Linked DNA regions of Homo sapiens: region 2 is linked to region 1. Evidence: fine-mapped expression QTL. A gene starts in region 1. The other region holds a variant in brackets. All regions are shown on one strand. Distances are from middle to middle. Region 1 holds the start of CRIP2 (cysteine rich protein 2). Region 2 has its middle 15 kb from the start of NUDT14.

Evidence for each region. PIP is the estimated chance that this variant, and not a neighbour inherited with it, causes the effect.
Region 2: its variant is the best candidate, but not a certain one, in a credible set for the expression of CRIP2 in left ventricle (GTEx, PIP 0.55).

Annotation. Positions count from the first base shown.
Region 1 is chr14:105,472,698-105,477,066 of GRCh38, forward strand. It overlaps CRIP2 (cysteine rich protein 2), which reads left to right and starts at 2,124. Exons shown (of 8, transcript NM_001312.4): 1 at 2,124-2,208. The coding sequence starts at 2,166. RefSeq lists an enhancer at 566-1,098 and silencers at 1,127-1,176, 1,187-1,276, 1,367-1,516, 1,787-1,856, 2,037-2,146.
Region 2 is chr14:105,194,491-105,198,859 of GRCh38, forward strand. No RefSeq gene overlaps it. Among named protein-coding and RNA genes, the nearest start is that of NUDT14, 15 kb to the left of the region's middle. RefSeq lists enhancers at 1,390-2,171, 2,172-2,953. The variant C/T (reference allele first, on the strand shown) is at 2,044.

The DNA of each region.
Region 1 (4,369 bases):
CAGAGGTGGAGACCAAGGCCACTGCTCTGCACCCATTGATCCTGACCCCTGCCTGCCAGGCCCAGAATAGCCCCGTCGCATTAGGGAGCTTCTGGCCGCTGCCCAGGGACTGCGGCTGGGGTGAGGGCAGTGCAGCAGCTGGCACACTCCTTGTCCCACCCCACCCTCCGTGTGTCTCCAGGGCACCTGGCCAGTGCCGAATGCCATTCCTTTGCTGCCACCCTGGGAGGGGCCTGCCTCTACCCCCATCCACTCTTCTGGCAGGGCTGGGGACCTTGGGGCAGGTGGTCTCCCTCCAGAAGAGCCCTGTGTTCAGCCAGCCCTGTCCTCCAGAGCAAGCCCCACAGGTAGCAAGCCCCACAGGTAGCAAAGTCAGGGAGGGTAATGGCTTAGCCCCAGGCTCCCAAGCTGGGCAGAACAGGGCAGGGAGCTGGAGAGGGTTTGGCAGTGGGCCCATGAATCCAGCCTGGGCAAGGCCCTGCTGTGAGGGACCCCTAGGGACCCCTGGGCCTGCCAGGGAGGAAGGGCTGCCCAGAAAAGGTACTGACTGATGCCTCCTCACCATCTTCTGCCTTGGCTGGCACAGGTCCCAAGTGCAGAGGGGGAGCTGGTCAGGCTGGTCAGTCGGGCGGGGGGGCGGGGGGCATGTTTCTGGCCTGCTGTCACCATGGAAATGGCAGTGGCTGCAGGGTGTGTGTGCAAGGGAGGAGGGTGCTGCCACAGAGAGCCCAGCCAGGACCACCATGAAAGCCAGGAGCACCGAGGGCCTCTGGTTGGCTCACAAACATGCCTGGTGCACCAGGCAGAGGGAACAGGTAGGTCTCCGTGTCCAGCCCACAGCCTCCAAGACACAGGGGGAAGGGTGTCCAGAGTCAGCTGCCCCCATAGGGCCTGATCACTGGGCTTCTGGGATCTGCCTGTCTCCCAGGCCGACGCTCAGCTGGGGCCAGAAGGCTCAGAGAAGGGCCCATGGGGACAGAGCACCAGGAAGCCCGTGGGTGCGGAGGTTCCCCACCTGGGGCCAGGCTCTACGGGGCTCTAGGGCGGAGGCACTGTGGTGAGGCGTGGTCAGGCACGCCCTGGTTGGGAGGAGGCCAGAGTGGGGGTGTGGGGGTGCGGTGACTGGCATGACCCCTCAATCTCCCGCCTGACCCCTCGAGGTCAGGCCCTGGGCCCCCAGGCACGCAGCTGGTCCTGGGCGGTGCGGGAGAAGGGACTGGAGTGTCAGCCCCAGCCCGGGGCACAGAGGGCACGCCCACTCCTTCCCCTCCTTCCCTTCCTAACTCCTCACCGCCTCCCCGGCCGCCCCCTGGGTGGAAGTGCTTGGGGTGGACGCCTTAAGCGCGGATCCCTCGGCGCTGGTGCCCGCCGCCCCTTCCCTGCCTGGGAGGCAGACGCAGACCTCCCCACACCCCCTACCAGCAGCTTCTCGAGCTGTTTCTGGAGGTGGCGGCGCCTTCCTTCCTGAGCCCTGCCCTCCACCCAAGGAGCCTTCAGCACCACAGACAGTGTTGGGGCGGGGCGCGGGCGGGGGCGGAGCGGGACATGGAGACCCGGACAGGGCTGGGGGCCGTGCCCGCCGGGAATCTGACTCCGCTCCCGCGGCGCGGCTGTTGCTATGGAAACCGAGCAACAAAGGGAAGCGGGACAGGCGCCGCGCGCGGCGGGGTGGGGGTGGGGTTCTCCCGGAGCCTGCGACCCCTTCCCGCGGCGGAGCGCAGCCTGGGCGCCCAGGGCCGGGAGTGTTGGACCCCTAGGCCCAAGTCACTAGGGCTCCCCGAGAGCCGAGGGCCAGGCTCCCCGCACCCTGCCCGCCGCCCCGGGGACGGCCCGGCCAGGCGGCCCCGACGTCGCCATGGAAACAGCCGGGGCGCGGGCGGCGCCGCGGTCGCCCGGGCGGGCCCCTGTAGACGCCACCTCCGGCGCGAGGGGCCCGGGGGCGCCAGGCCTGGCCCGGCTGCCCCGCACCCGCCACCCCCGGCAGGTGCGCCCCGCCCCCGCGGCGCCCCCAGGCGGCCCCCAGCCCGGGGGACGGGTTATCGAGGCCCCGCCCCGGCCGCGGAGCCAATGGGCGCGCGGACAGCCGGGCAGGCGGGGCTGGGCGCGGGCGGCGGCGGCCCGGAGGAGAACGGGCGGAGGGCGCGGGCCGACCGGGCGCACCGACCATGGCCTCCAAATGCCCCAAGTGCGACAAGACCGTGTACTTCGGTGAGTGCGTGCCCGCTCCCGGCCCGCTCGGTGCATCCCGCCGCCCTTCGCGGCCAGTCCCGCGCCGCAGAGCCGCGGCGTAACTCGGGGTGCGCCCGGCCCCGGCCCCGGACCGAGGATGCGCGTCCCGGAGGCTGGCTGGCCGCGCTGCCCAAGCGGCTAAAGCCAAAGGGTGGGGCTGCGCGAAAGCGGGGGCGGTCACGCCCGAACCCCGAAGCGGCTTGTGGGGGCGGGGCAGGGACCACCCGGGCGGGGCTTGTGGTGCCCCGGGATGAGGCCAGTGTTTGGGGGAGCGCTCGGGGATCCGCGGACGCATCCCGGTTCCTCGGACGGCGCCGGGCGGGGCGGGGCAGGGCGTGGCTGTACGCCCCGGGTGCGTCCCGCGCGCTCCCGTGGGCCTGGGCCCTTTCTCCTGGACCCCCTACACCCGCTTCCCCCGGGAACAAGTGGCCGGGAACAGTGACCCCCAGCTCCCACTCCGGGCTCCGCTGAGCTGGGCTGGGCCAGGTTTGGACTCTGTCGGGATTCAGTCCAAGCGGGGGCGACCTTGGCCTCTGCCTCCTGCTTGTCCCGACGCATTCCCTTGGCGCCAGTTCCCCCAGGAGTTTCACACGGGGGTAGGGTGGGGGCGGGTGTGACACGCGAGTTCCCGCGAACGTGAGAGGGACCTTGTGCTCAAGCAGCCCAGGTGTCCAGGATCCCTGCCTCCTCAAGGTCAGAACAGCCCTGGACAGGATGCAGGTGGTGGCGGGAAGAGGGATGTCTCGCAAGGCGGCCCTCGGTCTAGCCCCTCCGGCAGGCGCGCTCCCCCCGTCTGGGCTTACTCACTCTCTGGGCCTGGGTGCGCCCTTCCTACCCCCTTCCTCCTGGCTGATTCGCTGCCCAGCTTTCTCCAGGGTGGTAAGGTCCCTGCCCACCTACCCACCAGCTGCTGCACGAAGGGGGGCAGACTTAGTGAAGCAGAGAGGAGGGCCGGGACCAACAGGGCGCCTGCCCTGGTCGCCCCATACCCAGAATGCGGCCAGGCTGCAGGGAAGGCCGCCACTGGGCTTCCCCGGCTCACAGGCTGGAGGGGGTTGAGGGGAGGTTGTATTTTGCCCGTCCCAGAGGGGAGGGACCGGATTTGGCCTGGAGTGCTTCTGGCGTGGCTGGGAGCCGAGGGGCTTCCGGCTGCCTCTCCTGGAGCCCGCTCAGCCCTCAGTCTCTGTCCCAGCGAGGGCTGTCTCTGTAAGGCTTAGGGTGGGAGACGGTCCCCAGGGCCCTTCTGCAGTCCAACTGCCCATGACTTTACCCCAGGCCGGGCCAGGCCAGCCTGGGGCTCTCCAGGGTCTCGGCCAACAGTCCTGTGGACAGCCCGGAAAGGCCTGCCTGCCTGGCCCGCCCAGCCTCTCAGCGGAAAACAAAGGCGCTTCAGACCCGGCTGGCTTCTGTCCTGCCTGGGAGGCACTGTGAGGGCGAGGGTCCAGAATCCTGCCCACCCTCACACCAGGCTGCCCCCGCAGCTCATACCTGAGTAGAACCCAGGCTGGGATGTCGGAGCACATTGAGGAGGCCACCCCAGAGCCCATGCAGCCAGGGTGGGCAGCTGGTTTTCTTCTGAGCCATTAGACCCAATCGATTCTGTGTTCCCAACTCGGACCCGTAATGTGTGGCCATTGACCCACCCAGTGGGTCTGAGGGCCAGTTCCCTGCCCCCACTTGGCCCACGTCCCAGAGCTGGCCAGAGCACAGTGCTGGCAGCCCTGGGCTGCAGCTGCCACGGCCGATAGCCACCGAGACTTCCTTGCTGCTGCTGGGACACGCCTGCCCACCGTGCAGCCAGCCCCTGCCTGCCCTGGTGTGTCCCAGCTTCCTTGAGTGGAGTGGTTCTGGTCAGAGGGCTCTAAGCTGGTGCAGCCTTGTGGTTGGGCTGGTGTCCTGGAGGCTGGCCCTGGCCATGCCCAGAGGGTTGTACCAGGGCCACGGAGAGCCAGTATTCACAGCCCTCTACCTAGTAGGCCACCTGGGGGATCCCATCTCACTGCCAGGAGCAGCACCCTTGGGCCTCTCAGAGTGGGCTTCGCCCTAGCCAGATGCCCCTCCCCGATATCTGCCAGACAAAGGGGGCTGGGCCACTTGCTGAGAAAGGGAGCTGGGAGAGCCACTGGTCCTCGGCCACCTG
Region 2 (4,369 bases), 280 kb before region 1:
TGCAGACATCCTGACGCAGGAGCCAGTAGACAATGCCCAGCTGCCCAGCGCTGGCCCCGCATCACACTGGCATCGTGCCCAGGCAGCCCCAGCTCTGAGGCTCCTCCCACCCACCACCCAGCTCTCTTACCTCCATCCTTCCCAGCACCCCTGCGTCAGTCAGGCTCTCCCTGCTGCTGTGCCTCCTCCCCTCTCTATCCTTCACCTGCATTTCCCCAGCTGAATCGCACCTGCATGGGATCCTGGTGTCCTCTTCTCAGAGGACCTGAGCTCACACAGGAGACTCAGATTCAGGGCCCTGTTCCATTTCCTGGGCTGTGTGCCCTCTGGCTCCTTATGCCAAGGGCTGCCTCCCCACTTCTCTGGTTCATAGGCAGCATGGCATGGCTCCCCAGAGTGCCCCGGTTCGTGCCAGGCCCTTCATAAACACGTGCTGCTGCTTGTAGAGTGCCCACTAAGATCTGGCACCTCCTTTCACCTGTGTGAACTCCCCCAGGAGCCTCAGAGGCAGGGAAGACTTGTCCAAGGGACAAGCAGCTGGGCTGGGATGGCCATTGGCTTGCTCTCATCGAGTTCCCGGGAGGAGCTGTAGGTGGGAATGCTGAAAGCCATGTGCACGTGGCCCCCAGGCCCACCGTGCCCGTGAGCTGGAGGGTGGGGGACCTCCTGTCCACCTGGGGCCCACTGTGCCTGTGAGCTGGAGGGTGGGGGACCTCCTCTGCACCTGGGGCCCACTGTGCCTGTAAGCTGGAGGGTGGGGGACCTCCTCTCCACCTGGGGCCCACTGTGCCTGGGAGCTGGAGGGTGGGGGGCCTCCTCTCCACCCGGGGCCCGCTGTACTCATGAGCTGGAGGGTGGGGGGCCTCCTCCCCACCTGGGGCCCACCGTGCCCGTGAGCTGGAGGGTGGGGGGCCTCCTCTCCACCAGGGAAGGCTGCCTCCGCATCTCCCACACTCTCTTGCTGACTTCCCTGGAAGCTCTGTCCAAGGAAGTCCAGAAGGAGGAGGGACAGGCCATGTTTGTCCGTCAGTGGCAACTTCAGGTGATGATGGTGGTGGCGGACATGGGGACAGAAAGAGGCAGTGGTGATGACGGCAGGGACGTCAGCAAGAGGGGGTGAACCACTGGCCCAATCTGTGGGGACACGGCAGCAGTGGGACCTGGCTAGCACCCCCCCCAACCCCACCTGCCGGCTGCCTCTTGCAGCAGGAAATTGATTTCCGGCTTGCCAGACTCTCCTCTCTACGTTCCTGCATCCCCTCCAAGCTGTTCGCATTAAGTTCTGCTGTTTGAAATCCCCGCGGTGGCTTCCGTTTGCTGATTGAGTTGGCCTGAGTCAGGGCCAGGGCTTTGCTGGGAAGGCACCCAGGGGGTCTCGGAAAAAGGAACTGCAGGAGACCCCAGGGCACATGGTGGGAAGTGAGCAGCGGCTGTGGCCATCCTGCTCCAGCTGGTTCAGTGGCCTCGAGTGCCATGGGGAGCTCTGGTGGGCACCGGTGGGCTGTGGCACTGGTGCCAACTCCCCCTCCCACCAGCTCCCAGAGACCCAGCCCCAGCTACGGGTGAGCTTACAACCGATGGCCAGCCAACCAGGGTGCTGTGCTGGGCGAACCTGTGGGGCCTGGTGAATGGGCAGCGTGGAGCACAGGGGAGAGAGGACGAGGGGGTGGAGACGGCCTCAGATGGTCAGGAGCGCCGCAGGGCCCCCGTGAAGGAGGGATGAACCCTGGCCGCATCACTCCCCTCCCAGGCCTCAGCCCCTCTTCCCAGCCCACGGTCCTGGGTGGGCGTCTTCCGCATGGGAGGCCGTGGGCGCTGGGTTTTCACGACCCTGAAACTTGAGCCTGCCCTCGCTCTCTCTGAGCCTGTCATCCAGCAGGGAGCAGAGGAAGGCTGCAGAGCTGGGAGGGGCACCCTCTGTCTCAGGGTCTTCCTCCTCCTTCCTCCACCCGCCCCCAGCGCCGCAGGATCTGGAGGCGGGAGCCCCGCCCTCACAGTGTCCCCCTGGAGGGGACATCCCGCTCCTGCCCCCGCCCTGCAGAC[C/T]GCACACCGAGCCCCAGCCTCACTCCCCAGCCCCCGGGAGCCCCGAGCCAGGTCTGCCGTCGCCTCTGACCCCAGGCTGGGCCGGCCTCCTCGTCTGGGCCTCGGCTCGGAGGGTTTCCTGCCCGCCCGCTCCTAGCCTGGCAGGAAGCGGACACCTCAGAACAAAGGGACCGGCGGACAATGGCCATTGAATTGGGCCGGGGCGCTCGCGCAGGGACAGGCCGCCAGCTGCCCGCGCTGATAAGACCCTCCCCGCGGCGCCCGGCGCGGGGGCTAATGCCCGGCTCGGCCTTCCCTCCTTCGCGGCCTGGGCCTCGGCAGGTGCGGCCGGGACTCGGGACCGCAGGCCGGGAGTGGGAGGCTCAGCTGCGGCCTCAGGGGGCCGTGCCCGCCCCGCTGGGGACTAAAGAGGAGCCAGCGCCCGGGACCAATCCCAGGAGCGCACCGGGGAGCCACCCTAGCACCTGCCCCCCGACCCTGCCCCGCGGTCTGACCCCCCCTTGGATCTGGCCCCGCCTCTACCTCCCCCGACGAACTGAACCCCCTGGGATCTGGCCCTGCCCCTTGCACCTGACCCTGCCCGGAGATCTGAACCCCTAGGATACGGCGGGTCCCGCAGTCTGGGCCCTCTATGATCTGACCCCGTCCCTGCACCTGACCCCGCCCTGGGGTCTGGGGGTCCGGCCCAAGCCCTGGGCAGGCGGGGTCGGGGTGGGGGGCGAGAGTATGTGGGGGCCAGACTCTACCCAGCTGCCTGAGAGCCTGGCCCTTGTGCACGCCAAGGAAGCCGCGCTTTTAAGAGGGCGTGATGTTTGGTATTTCCCCAAAATGCACCAGACGTCATGACACTGGAGAGCCTCAGGGCTTGGCTGCGTTTCCTTCGCATTGTTTTGGACAGAATGACAGCCAGGGAGGGCTGGCCACGTGGCTGCAGCATCTCCTGGCTTTCTGCAGGGTTCGGTCACTTGCTGTCCCCAGGGGCAGCCTGGGCCTCATGCCTGTGTATGCGGCAAGGGGACATGGGGTGGGGGGGGTCTGCTCCAAGGAACATCCTCCCCAGCTGGGCCTCAGGGCAGGGCCATCGGGAGGGAGAGGCCACATTCCTGCCCACCCCCCACCCCCCTGGACTCTGCAGGACTGTCCGACAGCCTCCGAGTCCTCGAGGGCCATGTTTCCGGAAGACTCTCCTTGAAGACTCTACCTCCTCCCGAGGCCTGGGGCAGCTCTGTGTTGGCAGAGACTGAACCTAGGACCAGTGAAGAGGCGGCTCCCTGTCCCCCATCCCCAGGCCTGAGCACCCAGGGAGATCAGGAGTCAGCGCTGTGCTGGCTCCAGAGGGCTCAGGGGCACCACGTTCCCACTCGAATCTGGGAAGGCTTTGTGTGGGCAGGTGCAGAGCTGTCATTAGGGCAAGGGCCGGGAGGGGTTGGGGTGTCTCAGCGTTTTCCCGCAGCAGCCTGGCACCTGGCTGCCCCAGGATTAGATAATCACACAGGAGGGGTGTGGCACTGGGAGGGGTCAGGGGCTGGGGGCTGAAGGAGGAGCAAGAACTCAAGGTTTGGGGAAACTGAGGCAGCCCCTCTCTTCTGGGCAGGATGAGATAGCCCAGGCCCACTTTGGTCTTGGCAAGCCCCAGACAGACGTCCAGCCCATGGCACTTCTTGCCATCATCTCTACCAGCCACAGACCCCTCCCTCAGCAAGCCACTGGCCAGGACAGGGATGACACAAGGTGAGCAGAGTCAGGACAAAGAGACACTTGCCAGCTGCAGAGGTCCCAGAGCAGGTTCTGGCCCAGCCATGGGGGTGAGGGTGGCAAGGAAGGCTTCTTGGAGGTGGCACTTGGGTTGAGTTTGCCAAGGGAGGAGGTGACAGAGGAAAGGCGTGACAGGCAGGGACAGCGGGGCATAGACCCCAGTCAGGGGAAAGCCGGGTGCTGACAGGGAGGGCAAGGAGTCCCAGGGGCACAGGTGGGGACAGCAGGAGCTGAGGCCATGCTGGACCAGGGACAGGAGCAAGGCTCTGGAGTGGCAACCTGGAGGCGGTGGCAAGCCATGGCAGGGCAGGTGGATAGTGGTGACTGCTTATTTGCTGGGGTCCCCAGGAGTCAGGTCAGGTGGGGGTACCAGGGAGAGGGTGCTGGGGCTGTGACCAGAGCTCTAGGGAAGCTCCCCTATGCAGGTCCTACAGGACCACCTTGGCAGCGGTGGTGCTGAGCATGATCACCCTGGGCCCCTGCTGGTGGGCTGGGGTGGTGACCACAGTATGCCAGAAATGCTGGGGTGCTGCAGGCTGCCTTCTGGCTCAGGGGCTCTGAGCATCGTTGC